Linked DNA regions of Homo sapiens. The protein of the gene in region 1 interacts with the protein of each later gene in a pairwise test. Each region holds a gene or a part of one and is shown on either strand. Other genes may lie near its edges.

Region 1 (4,035 bases):
TAGTATTACCACCTTATGGTTTTCATTTACATTTCTGATATTCATAATGGATTTAGCACTTACCAAAAATTTTGCCATTTAAATATAGTTGACCATTGAATAACATAGGAATTAGGATAACTGACTCTTGTGCAGTAAAAAAAATCCACATTTAACTTTTGACTCCGCCAAAACTTGATTAACAATAGCATGCTGTTCAGTGGAAGCCTTAACAGTAACATTAAACAGTTGATAAACACATATTTTGTATGTTACATGTATTATATGCTGTATTCTTAGAATAAGCTTGAGAAAAGGAAATTTTATTAAGAAAATCATAAGGGATTGGGTGCGGCGGATCACAAGGTCAGGAGTTCGAGACCAGCCTGGCCAACATGGTGAAACCCTGTCTCTACTAAAAATACAAAATTAGCCTGGCATGGTGGTGGGACCCTGTAATCCCTGCTGCTCGGGAGGCTGAGACAGGAGAATCACTTGAACCCAGGAGGCAGAGGTTGCAGTGAGCCGAGATCGCACCACTGCACTCCAGTCTGGGTGACAGAGCGAGACTCCATCTCAAAAAAAAACCAAAATCATAAGAGAATATATTTACTATTCATTAAGTGGAAATGGATCATCATAAAGGTGTTTATCCTCATCACATTTATCTTAACTAGGCGGAGGAGGAGGGAAGAGAAGGGGTTGGTCTTGCTGTCTCCAGGGTAGCATAGACAAAAGAAAATCCACGTATAAGTGGACCCACGCACTTCAAAGCCACGTTCAAGGATCAACTGTAGTGTCTCATACAGTGTTTAATTAAGCTTCATGCTTATTTTTTATTGAGTTGTCTACATTTTTCTTTTTACGTAATTCCCTATATAGGCTGGATATGATCTCTTTGCTATGTATTGCGAATATAATCTTCTAGAGAGTGACTTTACTTTTTCACTTCCTTAATGGTGTTTTTTGATAAACAGTGGTGATTAATTTTGATGCAGTCCGTTTTATGGACCTTTTTTCTTATTGTTCATTGTGCCCTGTTATAGGAACCTTCCCCTATCCCGAGGGCATAAAGATATTCTCATGTTTTTTTGAGATGGAGTTTCGCTTTTGTTGCCCAGGCTTGAGTGCGGTGGTGCGACCTCGGCTCACTGCAACCTCCGCCTCCCTGGTTCAAGGGATTGTCCTACCTCAGCCTCACGAGTAGCTGGGATTACAGGTGTGTGCCACCACATCCGGCTAATTTTTGCATTTTTAGTAGAGACGGGGGCTTCACCATCCATGTTGGTCAGGTTGGTCTCAAACTTCTGACCTCAGGTGATCTGCCCGCCTCGGCCTCCCAAAGTGCTGGGATTTACAGGCGTGGGCCACCATGCCTGGCCTGTTTCTGGAAACTTTAAAACGATAATCTACCTGGGATTGATTTGTTTGTATATGTCTCTTGCTGTGTAATTGGATAAGGCTTATTTTCATTCGTGGCATATAGATAACCAATTGACCTAGCTTCATGTATTGAAAAGAACTTTTTTCCTAACTTTGTCATAAAACAAGTGTCTATATATAAAAGTGTGTGTATGTCTTCGCTATTCATGCTTGTTTTGCATTTCCATGGAAAGTTTATAATCAAGCTTGTTACCCCAAAAAATCAAAAAATCCACTGGGATTGTATTGACTCTTAATTACTTTTTCTTTCTTTCTTTTTTTTTTTTTTTTTTTTTGAGACAAGAGCTCATTCTGCTGCCCAGGCTGGAGTGCAAATGGTGCAATCTCAGCTCACTGCAACCTCCACCTCCCAGGCTCAAGTAATCCTCCCACCTCAGCCTTCCAAGTAGCTGGGACAACAGGTGTGCACACCTGGCTAATTTTTTTTTTGTATTTTTGGTAGAGACAGGATTTCACCATGTTGTTCAGGCTGGTCTTGAACTTCTGACCTCAAGCAGTCGCCCAGCTCAGCCTCCCAAAGTGCTGGGATTACAGGCAAGAGCCACTGCGCTTGACCTAAATTTTGAGATTATTGGCATCTTTAATGCTGTCTTCAAATATTTGAACATGGCATATCTTTACACTCAGCTGTTTGTTAGAGATGTGACACATCCTTCATTTTCTAAGTATTTTTTTAATGGTATTTTAAAAGATTACTGCTGATAATATTCTTGCATTTTGACCTTATTTTTGGGCATTGTAATAAACAGTAAAACAAAAAGATCTCTACATAGTTTTGGATTTTCTGTATAACATCTGATACTCAGTTTTGTGTTTTCCTCTCTGCTTATACTCCTAATATTTTTTTCTTTATACCAGCTAGGATCTCCAGTAAAATGATTAATGGAGGGATAGTGGCATCTTCCATGTTACTATTTAATTGTTTTAGCTACCATTTATCAAAAGAAGTTTCCATCTTTATAATTTTTTAAATATGTAGGTATTTGGGGTTTTTTTTTGTTTTTTGTTTTTTGTTTTGAGACGGGCTCTCGCTCTGTCGCCAGGCTGGAGTGTAGTGGCGCAATCTCAGCTCATTGCAACCTCCACCTCCTGGGTTCAAGTGATTCTCCTGCCTCAGCCTCCTGAGTAGCTGGGACTACAGGTGCCCGCCACCACACCCAGCTAATTTTTTTTTTTTTTTTTTTTTGTATATTTAGTAGAGGCCGGGGTTTCACCGTGTTGGCCAGGATGGTCTCCATCTCCTGACCTCGTGATACCCCTGCCTCAGCCTCCCAAAGTGCTGCGATTACAGGATTACAGGTGTGAGGCACTGTGCCCGGCAGTATTTGATTTTGTCAGAAATTCTTATCTTAGATTTTTGAAATGATCTCATGATTTTTTTTTTTTTTTTTGAAACGGAGTCTAGCTCTGTCACCCAGGCTGGAGTGCAGTGGCGCCATCTGGGCTCACTGCAAGCTCCGCCTACCGGGTTCTCACCATTCTCCTGCCTCAGCCTTCTGAGTAGCTGGGACTACAGGCACCTGCCACCACACCTGGCTAATTTTTTGTATTTTTAGTAGAGACGGGGTTTCACTGTGTTAGCCAGGATGGTCTCGATCTCCTGACCTCATGATCCGCCCACCTTGGCCTCCCAAAATGCTGGGATTACAGGCGTGAGCCACTGCACCTGGCCCCACAGTACTTCTGACACCAGATGTGTGGGAATTTTTTCCCAACTGACCAATTCTCTCCACATACCAACTGGGTGGCTTGTGATTTGATTCAGTTCTGACACTGTCTACCTGATGTTACCATCAGAACCCACAAGTTAAAGGGCTCAGTCCTACAAGACTGCCCCCACTTGAAGCTAGTCACAAGTCCAGGTTTGTACTTCTGACCAACTGGCTATAAAGCAAACAAGGTATGCTTTCTCTGAGGTCACTACCTTCCCAGCACTTCAGTGTGTTCTGTTCACCAGCCCAGAAGCTCGGCTCATCACATCTCAATGTTCAAGAGTTTTGTTTTTTAAAAAAAACAGCCTTACTCTGTCACCCAGGCTGGAGTGGAGTGGTGCCACCATGGCTCACTGCAGCCTCAACCCCCAGGCTCAGATGATCCTCCCTACACTGCCTTCTGTTTTCTGAGTAGGTGGCTGGGACTACGGGCATGCACCACCATGACGGGGTAATTTTTTTTTTTTTTTAATTTTCAGTAGAGACAGGGTTTCACTATGTTTCCCAGGCTGGTCTTGAACTCCTGGGCTCAAGAGATCTTCCTGCCTCAGCCTCACAGACTGCTGGGATTACAGGCATGAGCCACCACACCCAGCCAAGACTTTTTATAGAGTCCAATCTCCAGCTCCCCCCACCACTTTATGGAGGTCAGTGGTTAGAACTAAAAGTTCCAACCGTCTAATACTTGGTTTTCCTGGTGACCACCAGCTGTATCCTGATGGTATCTAGGGGCCCCCACTTTAAGTCACCTTAGTAGCATAGACTCAGGTATGTGCATACAGAGTTCATTATGAATAACAAAAGATATTTATGAATTAGTGTTTGCTTATGCCAGAAATTTTCTTTTCCTTTTTTTTTTTTTTTTTTTTGAAACAGAGTCTTCACTCTGTCACCCAGACTA
Region 2 (3,500 bases), on another chromosome or scaffold:
CGCCTAGTCACAGCAGGTGGACCTCGTGCTCATCAGAGCATGCCAATCCTAAGCCATTGGACATATGTAGACTGGTTTTTGTTGTTGCTATGTACATATAAATATATATATAAAATGAACATAGTTCATGCTTTCAGATAAAATGAGTAGATGTATATTTAGATTAATTTTTTTAGTCAGAACTTCATGAAATCCACACCAAAGGAAAGGTAAACTGAAATTTCCCTTGGACATATGTGAAATCTTTTTGTCTTTATAGTGAAACAAAGCCAGAGCATCTTTGTATATTGCAATATACTTGAAAAAAATGAATGTATTTTTTTCTCCAAAGAACAGCATGTTTCACTCAATGGTGAAAAGGTGGAAACATTTATGTAACTTTATGTGTATCTGTCTTGATATCTACTGACATTGTCTATATGAGGAAAATGATTACTGGTCATGCTCCTGTGAGTTTTTTGGGAAGGTAGGGTCATTTCTCCCTGCCTGCTTTGTGCCAACTAGCATGTTGCATCTACATGCATTATGAGTCTGGTTAGGCATTACTTTAAACATACATAAAGAGACAGTAGGACATTGTGGCTGAGTCTACCCAGCTCAAGGTAAAGGAGAATGTTGCTAATTTTTTAGCAAACTAGACCAGCATTATTACTCAAACTAAAAATATCACACCTGAAAAATTTAATTTAGGACCTAAAATGTCTAGATTAGCTTTCTGCTTTTTTTATTTGAATAACTCATTCAGTTGTGAATGAATTCCTCTTTATTTGGTGCCACAGTCACCAAATGACAAGGATTTGCCACTTTCCCACCAAATTGTGAGTGCTTGTAATTTAGGTCTCTCTACCTTAAATTCAGTATAAGGAAACGTAATTATGATTGATTTTTTCCAAAGATGACAAGCTGTGTTGAAATACATTTTTTCTTTTGACCAATTGACAGAATCTAATAAGCTTTAATAATCTTCCCCTTTTATGTGAAAAGTTTTGAGAACTGTGAAATGTTTAGGAACAAACTGTTGAAATCCATTGGAAGGGAAAAAAGAAAGTGGTACCAGTGTTACCAGCTCAACTAAAACCTGCAATTCTGCATTTCAACTCTTCACTTCCTCAGCCTACAAATAGCTCATTAGATGACATTCACGCATGCTGGGTATAGGCAAGGAAAGTAATTTTCAAAGTACATTTGCAGTTCTCTTTTTCAGAGATGATTCTATGATAGTGCCTCTGAAAGTTGATGCAGCATTTTTGCCTTTCCAAAAAGTATTTATCCTCACTGCTTTTTGCAGTACTTGTATTTTCACAGATGGATTATCTGGGGTAATTTTCTTCAAAGGGAGTTTGTTATACACAGTGAAAATGTATTATAGAGTAGAATAGTAAAGCTCTAGGGGTTTCAGAAAGCTTTGATGAACAGATGACAAACATCTGAAACCCCCTCCGCACTGTTACCCAGTGTGTATATAATGACTTGTTATAGCTCAGTGTGCCCTTGAATCCATACAGTTTCTTAAAAGACAATAAAATCTTATTAATAAAGTTAATGTAACTTCTAAGTTCTAGAAAATGCTGATTCTGTCTGCCCCATTCAATTGGGGGCTACTAATTGATTTGTTGCTTGGATTTCCTGAGAATTTCTCTATTTGTAGGAGGGGTTTTTTCTTTTTACGGTCTGTTGATGACAATTACTTTATGGGTGTGATGCACCGATGGTAGCCAAGGAATCTGTTGGGGAAGTTCGGAAAGAAACCTTTTCTTTCTTTTATTCAGTTTAAAGTAAACTTTATCCTGGATGTTTAGAATCAACATTAAGAGTTATATTATGGTGTTCAGAGATTAAGCTGACTTGGATACAATATTTTCTTTTGAAAATGAATTTTCTTTTTCATTTGTGATTTTTAAAAAATGTTGCACCAGTTATGCTTCATGCATCGTTACATCTTCATCAGGTTAATGTAATGTCTAGTTCCTTTGCAATAAATATATTGCTGCAGCTTTCTTGACGTATACTGTTACTTTTCGGGAGAGAAGCAGCTCTTGGTTAGAGTCTTTTACTGCAGGGGTCCCTGGGTACCTGTCTGTGGCCTGTTATGAACCAGGCTGCACAGCAGTGGTGGGCATGCGAGCAAGCATGACTGCCTGAGCTCTGACTCCTGTCAGATCAGCCACGGCATTAGATTCTCATAGGAGCGCAAACCCTATTGTGAACTGTGCATGCAGGAGATCTATGTTTTGTGTTCCTTAAGAGAATCGAATGCCTGATGATCTGTCACTGTCTCCCATCATCCCCAGATGGGATCGTCTAGTTGCAGGAAAACAGTCAGGGTTCCCACTAATTCTACATTATGGTGAGTATATAATAATAATATGGTGAGGATATAATAATAATAATAGAAATAAAGTGCACAATAAATGTGCTTGAATCATTGAATCATCCTGAAACCATCCCCTGCCACCAGTCTGTGGAAAGATTGTCTTCCATGAAACCAGTCCCTGGTGTCAAGAAGGTTGAAGACCGCTGCTTTACAAGATCTGCATGGTGAAACCCCATCTCTAGGGAAAATACAAAAATTAGCCAGGCGTGGTGGTGTGCATCTGTAATCTCAGCTACTCAGGAGAGTAGGAGAGGCATATATTGCTACTTATAGGAGGCTGGAGAATAGTTTGAACCTGGGAGGCGGAGCTTGCAGTGAGCTTGCAGTGAGCCATCATGCCACTGCACTCTAGCCTGGGCCACAGAGTGAGACTTTGACAAAAAAAAAGAAAAACAAACAACCAAACAAAAAAGATCTGCATGGTTTGGATTGTACCTACTTAAAATTGCTACACAAATAATTCTTCCTAATAGAGTCAGACAACAAAGATAATTTAGGAGACATTTATGTAAGTACATTGTTACCATTTTTCAACTTACTTTCTCAATGGAGACTTTTGAAAGAAAAATATAAGCAACCACATTGACAGATTTGCATTCTACCCTTTTATTTTCCAGGCCCCCTCATAGATAGCAAGGGAGAGAGAGCCACAAGAAAATACAAAATTTTCCAACTGGACGCAGATAATTAAGAATTAAGGACATTTACTGATGGATGTGATATGAATGTTTTTATATAAAATATGCATCTCTTGGAGTATTCTCATGTATATTTGTAATCCAATAAAAATACACTGTATCTTCTTGCTAACTTTAGGACTAACACTTTTAACTATTTTTTGCTTAATGTAGTAGTTAAGCATTTTGAGAAGGAGGCACTGTAGGCTTAATAGTACAGTCTCTTAATATCCATGTTGACTTTTACCCATTTTGTCACTATTTCACCAATTATTTTTTCACAGTACCAGATTAGGAGTAAGAAATCTACCATCTGATGGCATGAAGTATTTAGTCCTTCTACCATGATGTGACACTCTCATTATATTACTCATTAGCTGTGATATAATGAGAAAAGCACGGGATTTAGGGTGAGAAGTTTTATATCTGTGTCTTGGTTCCACCACTTT

The links.
Region 2: the proteins of RESF1 (region 1) and TBC1D4 interact in a two-hybrid assay, tested with the Homo sapiens proteins (one large-scale study listed by IntAct).

What each region holds. Positions count from the first base shown.
Region 1 is NC_000012.12:31,976,126-31,980,160, forward strand, and holds part of RESF1 (retroelement silencing factor 1), read left to right. Parts: intron 1-4,035. UniProt on the Homo sapiens protein: Plays a role in the regulation of imprinted gene expression, regulates repressive epigenetic modifications associated with SETDB1.
Region 2 is NC_000013.11:75,283,170-75,286,669, reverse strand, and holds the end of TBC1D4 (TBC1 domain family member 4), read left to right. Parts: 3' UTR 1-3,167; downstream 3,168-3,500.